3 separate regions of the Homo sapiens genome follow, and regions 1 and 3 are each linked to region 2. Evidence: fine-mapped expression QTL. A gene starts in region 2. Each other region holds a variant in brackets. All regions are shown on one strand. Distances are from middle to middle.

Region 1 (5,228 bases), 84 kb before region 2:
AAAGCCAAAGTACAGCTTTAAAACCAAAACAGAATCCACAAGCAGAAAACTGAGGTTTCCCTGTAACAAATTCTTAAAAATAAAGCTGCCTCCAACTTCCTTACCCTGTTGTAGAAGGGATGCTGAGGGCCCGTCATGCCGCTGTAATAGCTGCTGTGAGGCTGTGGTGACACCACTCCACCTGCGAAGGGCCCATTGAAGGACGTGGAAGAGCACACGGATGGGGGCTGGCTGTACCCTGATGGCGCCCTAGGAGGACCCTCATGTAGAGGGAGCGGGGGGTACGCCAGTCCTCCAATACTGATCTGCTCTCTGGCAGCACGAACATCTGAAAGATTCAATCAGACCCCAGAAGGCAAGAGAAAACAGGACATTAGGAATCAGTCCAATTATCACATTCTTCTTTAGTTACTAGGCAGAAACATGACTTTATCACTCTTGCCACGGATTCCAACTAGATTAAAAAAGAAGACAGAAAATCTTGAAAACTCACAGGCCTTTTAGTGAGAAATGCCCAGCTACTTTGCAAAAAAGCATTTTCACCATTCGAAGTCACCAATATCTGGATTCTTCTCTTCAGTTATTGGAACAATTGACTCTTCTCTAACTCTTAAAGGATTTAAGATATTCTAACAATTACTTTTATTCATAACGTTATCAAGTATTAATAACTCATATTTGTTGGGTATTAACACATATAATGTTAGCAAAGACTGTGGGTTTGCAAATTATGAGACTCATCCACCTCTGAACAACAACAAATTCCACAGCCATGTAATACCCTTTGACATCAGCCTTGTAACAGGTACCTAGAAAATAGAATACAGAAGTAGTTTAAGGCGATCTCCTCACAGTTCCTGGAAAACTCAAAGGCAGGTCAGCAGAGCCATGTCATACAAAAGACTGTTTCAATGAAGGTTTTATGTGTGTGCACGTGCACAGAGTGGTACCTCCAGAACTTCATTTATTCCAAAGCCTTAATGTCACTACCCTGAAGCTCTAGTCCCCAGATTTAAGTTAATATCTGAAAAGTAATATAAAGATTTTCTTACTTCTCTGGATAGAGATCCCTGTTAAGAACCAAAGACTGGTGACAAGCAAATTACAATGAATGGATATCATGAAGTCATGACTGTATGTTAAAAGAAATCCAATTCCAAAGTTCCAAAGGAAGGACTTGGGTGGGGGCGGGAGGGGTGGGGACAGGGATCATAATAAAGTGAGATCCACAAATACTAACAGGATTTTCTTTTTTTTTTTTTTTGTTTTTGTTTTTCTTAACATTCTCAAAAGGATGCCAAGACTCCTAATCTTTAATTTCATGAATTTTTCTGTGTAGTGCTTAGTTCAATACCTCTTGGTTTTTCATAGAGCAGGAGAAATGTACACAAATAAGTTAGAAACATGAAAAATTCTTAGAACTTTAGATGAAAAATTAAATTTACTACTAATACCCACCTGCAATAATTTCCCGTAGTTTGGGATCTAGGTTTACAGTGCATGGCAAAAAGACTTTTACATCTCGAGCCACAAGAACTGGGGTCCTTGAAGACAAAAACACTTCAAAATTTCTTATATCTCCATCAATTTCAAGAAGTGGCTCAACATCCTTAGTTGTTGGAATATTCTTTGATATTCTTCAAATAAGAAATCAATGAAAAAGGTTATTAATGTCACTATTAGAAAGGTAAATTCTGCATGTCACCTGAAGTTACTTATACAACAATTACACATCTTGGTCTGATGGATTTGGTCTAATTACACATCGGCTCACTGCAACCTCTGCCTCCAGGTTCAAGCGATTCTCCTGCCTCAGCCTACCTAGTGGCTGAGGTTACAGGTGTGCACTACCATGCCCAGCTAATTTTTGTATTATTAGTAGAGACGGGGTTTCACCATGTTGGCCAGGCTGGTCTCGAACTCCTGATCTAAGTTGATCCACCCACCTCAGTCTCCCAAAGTGCTGGGATTACAGGTGTGAGCCATCATGCCCAGCCAAAAAATCTATTTTTAATTTTTAGG[G/A]TTTTTTTTGAGACAGAATCTTGTTCTGCCACCCAGGCTGGAGTGCAGTGGTGCAGTCTTGGCTCATTGCAACCTCTGCCTCCCAACTCAAGCTTTCCTCCCACCTCAGCCTCCAGGGTAGCTAAGACTACAGGCTCATGCCACCATGCCTGGCTAATTTTTGTATTTTTCTATACAGACGAGATTTCGCCATGTTGCCCAGGAGGCTCTTGAACACCTGGGCTCAAGCATTCCATTCACCTTGGCCTCCCTATTGGGATTACAGGCATGAGCCACCTCATCCAGTCTAAAAATTTTTTTTTTTAATAAAAGAGAAAGAAACTCAAAAAAGTAGTATGGTTACAAAAAAAGGTAACAATGAGTACGGCCAGAATTCTACTGCCTTTGGCCATGGCAGGACTTGGGTGGGAAAACAGAAGGAAAGACGCACATGCACAGGTGTGTCATATGCTCGGGGTCACCTAAGCTGGCTAAGGGTCACCCCTCAATGAAGATTCATTGAGTTATTGCTTTACAGATGAGGACAGTGGCCTCAGACAAATTAAACAGATGGCCCAAAGTCACACAACTACGAAAGCAAATCTGACTGGTTCTGAAACCCATGTTTTAAATAGAATACCACAGTTTCTCCTTTGCAAAGAAAACAAGAAATCAAGAACTTATAAATAAATTACACAGATTAAAAAAAAGCTAAGTTTTTCCTTTTTTAAAAAGGGTTTTGTTTCCTATTGTAAAAGTAATATATGCTTACTATATATGTATATACGTAAGATAGAAAAACAGACAGGAAAAAACATACTTTAACCAATCAGACACAATACCTCCTAATATAATATGTCACTTAGTCTTTTATTATGCAGAATGTTTTGTATAACTGAGTTCAAGCAATATGTAAACAATTCTGTATCATGCAGAGACTCTTGAATGTAAAAATAAGTAATATTCAATTAAAAACACTTATTAAACACTACTGTATGAAACTGTAGTTTTTGTAGGTCAAAAATGGTCAAATGTTGACAATTCCTGATCTAAGGCAGTAAGCAAGAACGCATCACCGAGGGATAAAGGAAAGAAAAAGAAAGAGAAGTTAAAAGACAAGAGGTAGATGAGAAAACTAGAAACAAATCAAATGTCCACTAACAGATGGAAGGATAAATAAATAGTGGTATATCCACACAACGGAATACTACTCAGCCAAAAAAAAAATGAACTACTGATACAAAGAACATGGATGAATCTCTCAATAAATTAATCCAACCAATAAAGAGTGTATAGCAATATGTTTTCATTTGTATAAAACTAGAAAATGCAAACCAATCTAAAGTATCAATGCAGAGCAAGGTTTGCTGTGAAGTTAGGAATGTGAGGCAGGAGGGAGACAAGGGAGGGTATCAAAGGAAGACGTGGAAAATTTTAGAACTGATGGAAACATTTACTCTCTTGATTGTGGTAATGACTTTGTGGGTATATACATTTATCAAACTCGTGAGATTGGTCAATTTAAATATGGCAGTTTATTGTATGTCAATTACACCTCCAAAAGTTGTTTAAAAATCACTGGATATATCCTTCCAATTAAACAAGAATATTAACTGTTAGATTATACTAAGTGAGCACAGTTGCAGAGGAGCAGTAAGATTTTCACGCCCTTCAAAAAGTGAAATGGGAACCTTATTCTAATGTTAGTAACAGTTATATCATTTCTTTGGGACTAGCACTTTACTGCTCAGACCCAATACTTGGCTAGTAGCCAAATATTGAAAGTCATCTAAGGGAAAAACCCAGAGAACACAATTAGCAAACAAGAAGAGAATAGGGTGCTGGGGAGAAAATAAGGGTAGCAATTTTCTCTTAATTAACTTCAGAAAGTCCGTTTTACAGACACAGACACATGCACAAGACAGAAAAGCCCTCTGAGATGGGGTTACTTTTAATACATTAAAATCGTGTTCAAACTGATTATTAAATATATTTAAAATGAAATGGAAAACCTGGAGAATGGTTGCAAGTGGTGATAAAATCAGAGCTTAAACAGTTAAATAGGTAGTTCATCTATTGCAGGAGTTGAACACAAAATACTAAAAAGAGAAGCTAGAAAGATTTAGATAAAAACACACAGCTGACAAGTCACATGAAACAAATTAACTGCATTTTAATGCCAGCTCTGCTTCTGCCTGAATGCAACAGTGTTCTCAGTATGATGAACAATGCTGCTGTTCACAAGCCAACAGGCTACTGCTGGCTTCCAGATTGAAGTCTCTATTCTAACCTTCTGAGCTCAATACATTAAACTCTTCTGCTGAAAGAGATATTTATGTAAATGATAATCTTTTGGCAGTGGGCCATCAAAATCATATGTGCCTTTATTTTTCAGATATTTTTCCAAAGGTTAGCATTTAAAGAATTTAAGTAACTTCACTTTTCAGTTAAGAGTGAATTTGAATTTCCAGCATTATGAATCATGTGAATTAAAGTTGCCAGCAGTTAAATGGCCCAAAGAAAGCATTATAAAACCTCAGGCATCAATGAGCTCCTAGTAAGTCTAAATGCAATTTCCTTCTATGCTACCAATCTAGCAATACTTGTTAATGCCAACATCAATGTAAGTTAAAAGCATTTTGATTATAAATGACAGTGGTTTATACAAAGTCCATATTAATTCCTTGGCAGAAATTGCATAAACTATTCATATCACTTCCATTCAAAATGAGGTTTTAAATTACATAAAAGATTTCTATTTTAAATCAAAATATAAACAGATTCTTAGAGCAGAATTTATGAAGAAAGTATTATTTATCACATTTTATCTAAAAGTAGCTGCCTAATAATGTCATTATTTAGTAGGATGTTAAAAAATAAGACACAATTTGTTTAAAAATTTAAACAGAGAAAACTCTTAAATGCCTTAGAATTTTATTGCCTTGAAACAAATTTAACTTCTAATAGACTCTCAAATACTTTCTACCAGTGAATGTCCATTTATTAAATACCATCCATGAACAGAACACTTTGGAGATTCTGGGAGACAGACAGAACACACAGACAGAAAACAGCCACTTGGCATTGCAGCCAAAAAGTCAGAAACAAAGAAAAAATGGAGTCCATTTATACACCCACTGCCATCTGTGAAAAGGCAAAAGCCCTGGATACCTCAGGAGCTGGCTACACCCTTCCATCTTCACCCTGTTAATTCCTACCCATCCTTT
Region 2 (5,228 bases):
CCCTCTCCCCCTCTACTATATCCCCCTTCCACAGCCCTACTTTAAAGGTCTTCTTTATAACACCTAGCATCACTCCACATACCACATACTTTGTTTTTGGTCTGCTTCCCCTAGCCAAACAAATGTAGCTCAATGAGAATAAAGACTATCTGTTTTGTTTACTGCTGAATCTCCAGCACTTAAGAGAAGTGCCTGGTACACCACAGAACCCAGTATCGGTAGAATGAATGGACATGCCCAAGCTGATCCAACCACCTGTAATGCCTGACCCAACTTTAACATTCTTAACAAGCCAAAACACACCCTTCAAAACCCCCCTCGCGGGTCACCTATAAACTAACTTATGTATGTATATGTATGTATGTATGTATGTATTTAGTTATTTATTTTTATTGAGACAGGGTCTGGCTCTATTGCCCAGGATGGAGTGCAGTGGCACATTCATAGCTCACTGCAGACTCAAACTCCTGGACTCAAGCGATCCTCCTGCCTCACCCTCCCTGAATAGCTGGGACTACAGGTGCATGCCAACACACCCAGATCATTGTTTACATTTTTAATTTTTGTAGAGACAGGACTTGCTATATTGCCGAGGCTGCTCTTGAACTCCTAGCCTGAAGTGATCCTCCTGCCTTAGCCTCCCAAAGCACTGAGATTACAGGTGTGAGCCTGCATGCCCAGCCTTGAACTAATTTATTAAGGGCTGTCTCTCTCCTTCATTCTTACATCCCCAGAACCTATTACAGATCTAGAACAGGTAGAAACTTAATAGATAACCATCAAATTAAATAACTGCATAGGTATGCTAAAGATACCTCTTCTGAAGGACTTTGCCCACCCACAGCCCCTGCTACCCTCAACAGCCATGTTCTCTAGCATCAGCCATTCCCAGGGATGGGCATATGATCTGTGGCATGAAACTGTTGAAAAAGATAAGCTGGGCCAATCAGACTTCTCTCTCTAGAACTGGGAATTAGAAACCAGAGACTGGGCCAATCAATATGGGTCACACATAAAATGATACAGTTCTGAGACAGCCAATCAGCAAAGAGAGAATACAACAGATATGAACAGAAAAGAGACTCCTCCTAAGTAAGAGAACAAATGTGGCCCCTAAGAGGAGGTCAGGGCTGCAGTGAGCCAAGATCACACCACCTGCACTCCAGCCTGGGCAACAGAGCCAGACCCTGTCTCAAAAAAAAAAAAAAAAAAAAAAAGTTGCCCCAGGGAGATGTAGAAAATGGAGGTACCTGGGATCCTGACTTCTTTCTGACTCTCATTCAATCCTATTATCTCCTTTTCCTTGAAGTAAAAGGTTTAAGTTTCTACTGTCTTCTAAACAGCCCTGACAAATACAGTAGCACATAAAATGGAGAAACTGACCGTTCTTGAGCAAAAGCAGGAAGAAGGGGATGGCACATTCATACATGATCCTATAAAAATTAATCTGGCAGTGTATGTGACCCAGACTGGAAAAATACAAAGAATCAGGGCCCTAGATACCAGTCAAGGAATCACCAGACAGTACACAAGAGAGGCAGTGGGAATAGAGAAGAAATGAGGGATATTAACTTGAAAAATATAAAATCCCTGACATTTGAACTTTCTGAACTACCAAAATATCCAGAAGAGATATTCTGGATATAAAGATAAAACTATGTGACTGGTTGGAAAAGAAAACAGGTGGAAGATGACCAGATGCCCAGCATAGGTGACTGAAGAATGGAGCTGCCCTTAACCAAAAAAAAAAAAGCAGGAGAAAGAGCAGACTTTTCTCTACTTAAGTTATGCCTCCTCCCTTCCACCACCCCAGCTGGGCGAATGGGGCTTTGGCCAGGCTGAATTTGAAGTGTCCCAAAAGAACTAGGTTGGAGAAACCCACCCAATACTTGGAAAAAGATACCGTTCACACTGTGTGTGAATGATCTGGAAATTATTCACACAAAGGGTGTAGAACAAGGATTCTCAAACTTGTGTGCACCAAAATTATTTGGGAAGCTTGTCAAATACACATATCCCTTGAGCTCCTCCCCGGGAGAATCCCATTCCCTAGATCTGGGGTGGTGCCCAGAAACTGACATTTTAACAAGCACCCCAAAATGATTCTGATGAAAGTAGTCCATGCTAGTAAAGCTAGAAGAGAACAAAGAACACACCTGGCCACGGCATTTCCCAACCTGGGCTCTGCACTCAATACCCCACGGTGGTTTAAAAAGGTGTAGATGTCTGGTCCTCAGTGTTGTCAAAATGTGGACAGGAACGAACCTGAAGGGGTGATTCCCGAGCCACACCTCAGGCCGAAGGAATGGGAATCTCTAAAACGCTAAGAAATCTACATTTTTAACAAGCGCCCATAGGGAGCAGAGATGGCTGCATAGTTATTCATAAAAAAATTTTTCATCGGTTTAAACCTGTCAACTTGAAAGAATAAAAATTCCAACATTACAAAGTGATGAAGAAATTATTTCCCTATAAATAAATCTTGGAGGCGTGGAAATCAATGGCTTGCACTATTTTGCCAGGCGTTTAAAAGCCTGCACAGGACAATGGAGCAATGGAGCCCACGATAAAAGCAAGGGAGAAAACAACACCTCCCGGCCCGTGGAAGCCTAGGAGGAGGAACCTAGAAAGACTAGCGGTACCAGCTAAGGGGGCTCTCAAGGTGGTGGATGTGCCAGAGGCTGCTTGGCAAAAGAAAAAAAACGGTTTTACCAACACCCTTCACCCCAACCCACCCGAGGGGCCCCTCAGGAGACAGACCACCAGAGACTCCAAGGTCGGAGACCTTCCCGGCGCTCCAGGAAACGCGGACTCGCCCCGAAAGCCGGGGCCCGAGCGTCCGGGGCCCGCGCCATGCCCTCCCCGGGACCCCCGGTCCGAGCTCGCCCCTTCCGCGCACTCCTCGGCTGTCCCACCTCCCCGCCCGACTCCCCGAGCCCGGCCTCGCCCCCGACTCCTCCCCAATCCCGCGGCAAAGCTTCGCGGACCGGCCTCCACACTGACGGTCTCCCAACCTGGTCCTCAGCTCCGGCGGAACGGGCCCGCTCGGCTGCAGGCGATGTCAGAGGACGGGGAAGCAAGAGACGGCGACTGCAAGCGCGTCGCCCTCACCACACCCGGCGGCCATATTCTTCCCTCTCCGCGAACTGACAGATCACGTGCCCTGGGTAGGGGAGGGACTCCGGGTTGCCACGCCCCCTGGGCGTGGAGGGGAGGGGCGGGGCGGGGCGTAGAGCAGGCGGGGCTGGAGGGGCCGCGGGGCGGGGACACCCAGGACAAGCGCCCCAGGCAAGGTTTTTCAGTGTCAATGTCACTCTTATTACAGTTAATTTATTATCCCTATTTTCCATTATAATCAAGCTTATTCAGAGAAATAAACATCAATTATATCTTCAGAAGAAACTGCACATACATAAGAAATGAAAGCCCGCTCAGCAGCCTTCTTCCGGATCCAGGAGCGAGACCTCTGCCTTTCGCGGGGCCTGTAGTTCACACTCCTTCCAGGTCTCCCAGCACCTCCCCTCACCTCCTTCAGCCTCCACATTCCTAGGCCTTGCTGCCAACAAGCGTCAATCTTGATTTTTGAAAAGGTCCAAGGATGATTACGACGTGCGTAGGTTGCGAACCATCGAAAAGCACCCACCAATGTGTCAACCTGGCAACTCAGGAAAAAGCCAATAAGGAGCCTGACTTCATCAGAAGTTGGTGCGGGGTGGGGACAATGGCTCACTCCTGTAATCCCAGCATTTTGGGAGGCCAAGACGGAGGATCACTTGAGCTCAGGAGTTTGAAACCAGCCTGGGCAACATGGAGAGACCTCTTCTCTACAAAAAAAAAAAAAAAAAAAAAAAATACAAAAATACAAAACTTAGCCAGGCGTGGTGTTGCACACCTGTAGTCCCAGCCACTTAGGAGACAGAGGTGAGAGGATCACTTGAGCCCAGGAGTTCGAGGCTGCAGTGAGCTGAGATCACACCACTGCACTTCAGCCAGGGCAACAGGGCAAGATCCTATCTCCAAACAAACAAACAAACAAACAAAAACGGAAGTTGGTGTGCCCCTCATGAAACAAGGAGCGAACACCCCAACGTGTACAGTGGAGTCCTAAATGGTGTGATTTCTTCGATAATGACTTGCTAAGGCCAGCCACTGTTGTAAACAGGGCAGGGTGGGTCAGGCGTTGGGGGTTAGAAGTATGGTAGGTGTATTAGCCCGTTTTCACACTGCTATAAAGAACCACCTGAGACAGGGTAATTTATAAAGAAAAGAGGTTTAATTGACTCACAGTTCTGCATGGCTGGAGAAGCCTCAGGAAACTTAAAATCATGGCGGAAAGGGAAGCAAACACGTCCTTCGTCACATGGCTGCAGGAAGAGAGGTGCCCAGCAAAAGGGTCAAAAGCCCCTTTTACATCCAACAGATCTCGTGAGAATTCACTCACTATCACGAGAACAGCACGGGGGAAACCGCTGACGTGATCCAATCACCCCCGACCAAGTCCCTCCCTTGACACGTGGGGATTATGGGGAATACAATTCGAGATGAGATTTGGGTGGGGTCACAGAGCCAAACCATATCAGTAGGATATAAGGATGAAGCCAACCTTAGAGTAGGGGAGAAGACAAGGAAACAGGTTAAATGTGCGTTATTTAGCACAGCCTTTCTGAGTCCTGACCATGTCCTAGGCACAGTGCAGTAAGGAGGTAAGCACAGAGGATGGAGTTACCAACTCTGCTTGGGGTCCACTAGGAAGGTTCACAAAAGAAGGGACCCCCCCCCCCCGCACCTCCAGCTGTATCTGAAGTATAGTTTGTCCATCACATCAGTTGGATGGGGCTAGGAAGAATGTCCAGGTCGGGGAACAACACTTTGGAAAAGAATAGAGATGAGAAGGAGGGTGGCCCAAAGTTCCAGGAACTGTCAATATTTGCCAGCCTTGGGGCTGGGGTGGCAGCATGGGAGGGGGCAGTAGATGGAGCAGGGGTCAGCCTCTGAAGGGCCTTGAGTGTTAAGTACCATTTGGGAATTTGTTCTAGGGAAATAGAAGGCCACTGAAGGGATTAGAAGAGTATCAAATTTGTCCTATGGAAATAGAAGGCTGCCTCCCCCAGCATCCACTACCCTTCCCACCACCCCCCAACCCCATCTTTCCTCAGCCTCCAGCTGTTTCCCTCAATCCCCTCCATCCTCCTCTTATCCTCTCACTGCTTCCTCCACCCTCTGCCCCC
Region 3 (5,228 bases), 69 kb before region 2:
CCAGGGGTTTGTATATCAGAGAGCCAGACCATGGCAAGAAACAGGAAGGAAGGCAGTTTTTTAAATGATACAAAAAGTTGGCTATAAATCCATCATTAAAAAATAAAGAATAAAACGATCCTAAGAAACAAGAAAGTATTGCGACAGGGGAGACACAAAGGGAAATTAGTCTTATAAATTCTTGCAGATGTTTAGAATAACTAATTTTCTTTCAATACCCTGCAACAGGACTGTAGGTGAGGTTATTTACTTCCTAGCTCACATAGAAAATGCCACAATGTGCTATTTCTATAACCCAACTTTTATTATCTTTAAAAGACAAGGTTTCACTAGTCACCCAGGCTGGAGTGTGGTAGCTATTCACAGGCACAGTCATGGCACGCTGCAGCCTCCAACTCCCAGGCTCAAGTGATCCTCCTACCTCAGCCTCCCGAGTAGCTGGGATTACAGGCGTACTCCACCATGCCCGACTCTATTAATCATTTCATCTTTACTGTGGGATAGCCAATTACTTTCTGAACTTTTCATTTACCTTAATTTTTCCACCCAGGTTCATTCCTATTCCCTTCCCACCGTGAGAGTCTCAAAACAAGCTCCCTTGAATCAACAGGCTTCCCTAACTCAGGCCAAGCTGCACTGATACAGCAAATAGGCCCTGAAGCATCAGGGTAATGGCCACACATTTTTCAAGACCCTGCAACGAATCCCCATCTTACTCAGGGTAAAAGCCAAAGTCCTTACCATGGTCCTCCAAAAGGGGTCCATGAACCCCACTGGTGACCCGACCTGACCTCCTACTCACTTGCTTCACTGCACCCCATCTCACCACATCAGCTCCCTTGTTGCTGTTCCTTCAACATTGATTCCAGGTGCTCTCTGGCCCGGAACTGTTCCCTCTGCCTGGAAATGCTTTCTCAGATACCTGCCTGGAAAACTGTCTTGCCTCCTTCAACCCTTCCTCAACTCTTCCCTTCTCCATGAGGACAATCCTGATCCCCTTACTTAATGCAGAACCTGCACTACTCTTCATCTCCTTAACTCTCTTCTACCTTTTATTCTTTCCACCACACTTGCTGCCTTTAACATGCTAATTATGTATTATATATGTTGTTTATTACCCATCACTCTCTGACAGACTGCAAGCTCCTCGGGGCAGGGATCTTTGCTGGTTTTGTTCATGGATACACCCAAGCTCTCAGAACTGTGCCTGGTCCATAATAGGTGTCCAATAACTGTTTTCTGAATAAATGAATGAATTTTAAGCTTTCTCCCCTTAATTTCTCTCACATCTTTGGATGTTGCTGGAAATCTAGTAACAACAACAAAATAAATAAGTAGCAAAATACACAAATAGGTAAACTAAAAAAAAGCCAAACACGTCAGTTTAATGCATTTCATTGTTTTCTCCACACAACAAAAGTAGGCATGATTTAAAGATACATCAAAATAAGCTAAAAAATTATGCCCTTCACCTTTATCTTTAGAAATCTCAATTGTCCAATTTTCACAAAGACATGGATAAAAATAATGCAAAGCCAGAAATGCACATTGAATGGTCAACATTACATCTGATTATGGCTATATTTATACAAGGTTTGCAGGCTCACTCTTCACACTGAACTTGGCAAATATACAAATGTCATTTATTTCTGTCCAGATAAAACATGATTTCTATTATAGATGACACAATCTTTATTTCAGTAAAAACCTGCTTAGTTTCCTCTCCTATATGGGGAATTATCTTGTAATTTTACAAATAACTAGATCAGGCTTTATCTTTAAAAAGATAAAGATATGGATAAAATATTGAACCTCTGCGGTCAAAGCAAGTGTGTTTTGAGAATAAAGATGGAAACAATAATTATATAAAAGATAGTAATTTAATAAATTTTGAATGATGACAACACCAATACCTACAAATAAGTCATATATCAAAAACAAAGAATTTCATGAAGATTCTAAGCTATATATAAAAAACACCAAAATAGCATGCATTAAACAGTTTTTGGAATAAATATTGCTAGTATCTCAAAAACTAAAGAGAAAAATTATCAGTACAAAGGATGGACTTTGTACTACAAAGGAGGTGAAGCAACAACTTCCTCTAAACTAACT[A/G]ATGTTAAATTTTTCATGCTATCCACATTCATAACTTAAGTCCACATGCAAAAGAAACAAGCTTGTGCAATAATCCAGGCCAAATGATGGCGGGGAAGAGAGGGAAGGAGAGCTGATCATCACCCAGAAAATGATGGAGAGAGCAAGCAGGTTAGTGAGAGCTACAAGAGGTATGAGATGACTACATGTGATAAAATGAAGCTTATGAAAGCTTTGGGTGAATATCAGGAGAGGTTATCATAAAATATGATGTTTTATTATGAGAATGTCCTAAATAATGTATAGAAATAACATTACTTGAATAATTTAAAAATAACAGGTCTATTAAAGTCATAAATTAGATGTCCATATTGTCTGTACAGCAAATTGCTACTTCAATGAAATGGAAAATGGCTACTATTCTGAAGCACCCTTAGAACTTATTCAACTGTTCTTTAAACATCAAAATAAAGTACCAAAATAAAGAATGTTGTTATCCTTATCACAAACTTATTCTGACCATATCATGGCCTGGGTAAAAGATTGACTGAGCAGTGTCAAAACAGAAATTTAAAGCACTATCTTCATGAAAACTACTTAAATTCATTTTTTTAAAAACCACTATCATTCTGCTTTAAATGCCAGAAATAAAGTTTTAGATTAAAATATTTCAATGGTTGTCTAAAATGCTGCAATAAAAACTAGACAAAAAATTTTTAGTTTTTATTTTACTCCCTTTCTTACTAAATGTATGTTAAAAAAAAAAAAAACTCTCAAATGATCCAGACAAAAGCTTTCAACTCAACACATAATTGCAAGAAAATTACAATAATTGTACCAATTAAAACCATCTTGAATGAACAGTGTGTCATCTTAATGTTCCCGTGGTTTACAGAGGGGTCTATTTAATTCGCTGAAATTGCTTTCCAGTGTTAGTATCAAATGTCATTTGTTAAAAGTTGAACAATTTAGAAAATAATTTAACAATTTCACCAAACACCAAGAACCAACATTTTCTTTTTCACCTGAATAAAGCCAGCAGATGTGTCATCAAATTGCTATAAAAATAAACGAGGCTTTTTATGCATTAAAAAAATAAATTTTACTACTAGCGTTAAAAATACTATTTTCTGATTGTTTTTACCAAATCATATTTCTTTAGTACAACAAATGAATATCAATTACATACTGCTGCTTTTTGTCGGCTGTAAATAAAACTTTCTCTTATTCAAATGACAAGCAATAGCATCAAAGAACTCAACTACAGTTAACTAGAAACATAATCATCTAGATTATTCTCACATACTTTAATATCTGGCTTTCCAATATGTTAATCAAAGTGTCTTCCTATAGTTTTTCATTCCAAATCCTTATTATATATAATTATTTTAAGTCAATTCATACGAATTATCAATGATTGCTTACTATATTTTTTCTCTTCCTTAGACTAGCTACGAAATATTCTTTGTAAGTAGTTGCAGGCATTTAAGACTTAAATATACCTATTTCACCAGGAAGAGAAGAAAAGCATCTCAAAATCACCCCAAATCCAGCCCAGTCATAGATGGCAAGCCTGCCAAATGCCGAAGTTTAAAGTAATGAGTTGGTTTAATGGCAAAGCAAAGTTCACATCCCTCATTCTATCCCCACCTAACACCTCTGCACTTTCCAAAGTGCAAGAATACATAAGGCACCTAGCAAAGTACCTGACGTGAAGGAAGGAGGTCAGTAACACTAAGTGACTCGACCTCCTTAAGCAAGGACCCATGTGAGATAACTAGTTCTCCTGTGCCCAAGTTTACAAATTTCTTGAAATCTAGAAATACATTCCTGGAGTAATATACTACTCCTAAACCAATTCAGACAGGGTCTAAGAATCTAAAGCAGCCACAAATTCCTTCCACTACTGTTTCTTAAGACATCACTCCACAGTTCCTAAACGAAGGCTTATTCTTTTTTATGACACATTTTTATTTACACACAAATGATAACAACAACAATCTTGAGGATAGATGAGAGTGTCAAGGGATTACCTGTTTACATTAAATAGGGCTTTATGTATAAATATAACATGCGAAAAATAAACCTCATTATATTGGTATGAATTATTACGAGGCACTTAAATATTTTTAAAACTTAAGTTTTAACCGCTTAGCAAACGTTCATAATTATACAGCACTTGTATTATAATACAAACGTTTATTCACGAAATAAAACCTTGTATGTACAATAAAATATTGTACTACAGAACCAAGAGAAAAACGAATCATGCATCTCACAATAAGATGATTTGTAAAACCTCAAAGACCAGATGCAATTCAGTACCACTTCTCAATAGGCAGACAGTAATTATACATCACTGCATCTACTGGAACACCTACTTGATACAGCACACAGGTTTAAACCACTAAACTACTTTCATATAAATTAAACAGCAAAACCTAGAAGAGCTCAAATCTGTGGACTAATACAACAACATCTATAATTCTAAAACCAGTTATTTACTTAGAAAACATTAAATGTGTACATAAAAAATAGGAACTAGAAAAATAGGAAAACCATATACTGACAATACTCTAAGGAAATAAAAGTTATCTGAAATCTTAGAAGTGTATATAAACTATACACTAAGGCTGGGCACAGTGTTTCACGCCTGTAATCCCAGCACTTTGGGAGGCCAAGACAGGAGAAATGCTTGAGCCCAGGAGTTTAAGACCAGCCTGGGCAACACTGCAAGTCCCCGCCTCTACAAAAAAATAAAAAGAAAGAGCCAGGAGTCCTGGTGCACGCCTACAGTCCTAGCTACTTGGGAGGCTGAGATGGGAGGATGACTTGAGTCCAGGAGTTTGAGGCTACAGTGAGCTATGATTGTGCCACTGTGCTCCAACCCGGGTGACAGAGAGAGATCCTGTTTCTAAAAAATTTTTTAAAATTTTAAATAAACTTTATATACCTGAAAAAGGAAAAGTTTGTCCAAATAAAGTCATAGATTTTACATGACAGGATATATACCTGTGCTAATACAACTCCAAAATTATAATGGAATTAATAAGAATGATTAAATCCAGGAGTATACATTTTATACATATTATTTTGTATTGTCTGCTTTATACGCGTTTTTTTTTTTTTTTTAA

Alleles and levels. Alleles are on the strand shown, and positions count from the first base shown. SD is a standard deviation of normalised expression in the study named. Not every link is listed here.
In carriers of allele A in region 3, the expression in pancreas of the gene that starts at base 3,148 in region 2 tends to be lower than with G alone (large effect, 1.4 SD a copy in GTEx).

Evidence for each region. PIP is the estimated chance that this variant, and not a neighbour inherited with it, causes the effect.
Region 1: its variant is the best candidate, but not a certain one, in a credible set for the expression of KIDINS220 in whole blood (TOPMed, PIP 0.65).
Region 3: its variant is the best candidate, but not a certain one, in a credible set for the expression of KIDINS220 in pancreas (GTEx, PIP 0.64).

Annotation. Positions count from the first base shown.
Region 1 is chr2:8,750,008-8,755,235 of GRCh38, forward strand. KIDINS220 (kinase D interacting substrate 220) reads right to left here. Exons shown (of 30, transcript NM_020738.4): 23 at 1,459-1,637; 24 at 105-328. Among named protein-coding and RNA genes, the nearest start is that of ID2, 71 kb to the left of the region's middle. The variant G/A (reference allele first, on the strand shown) is at 2,023.
Region 2 is chr2:8,834,466-8,839,693 of GRCh38, forward strand. KIDINS220 (kinase D interacting substrate 220) reads right to left here and starts at 3,148. Exons shown (of 30, transcript NM_020738.4): 1 at 3,015-3,148. RefSeq lists silencers at 3,205-3,264, 3,275-3,324.
Region 3 is chr2:8,765,397-8,770,624 of GRCh38, forward strand. The region is part of intron 22 of KIDINS220 (kinase D interacting substrate 220); the gene reads right to left. Among named protein-coding and RNA genes, the nearest start is that of KIDINS220, 70 kb to the right of the region's middle. The variant A/G (reference allele first, on the strand shown) is at 2,116.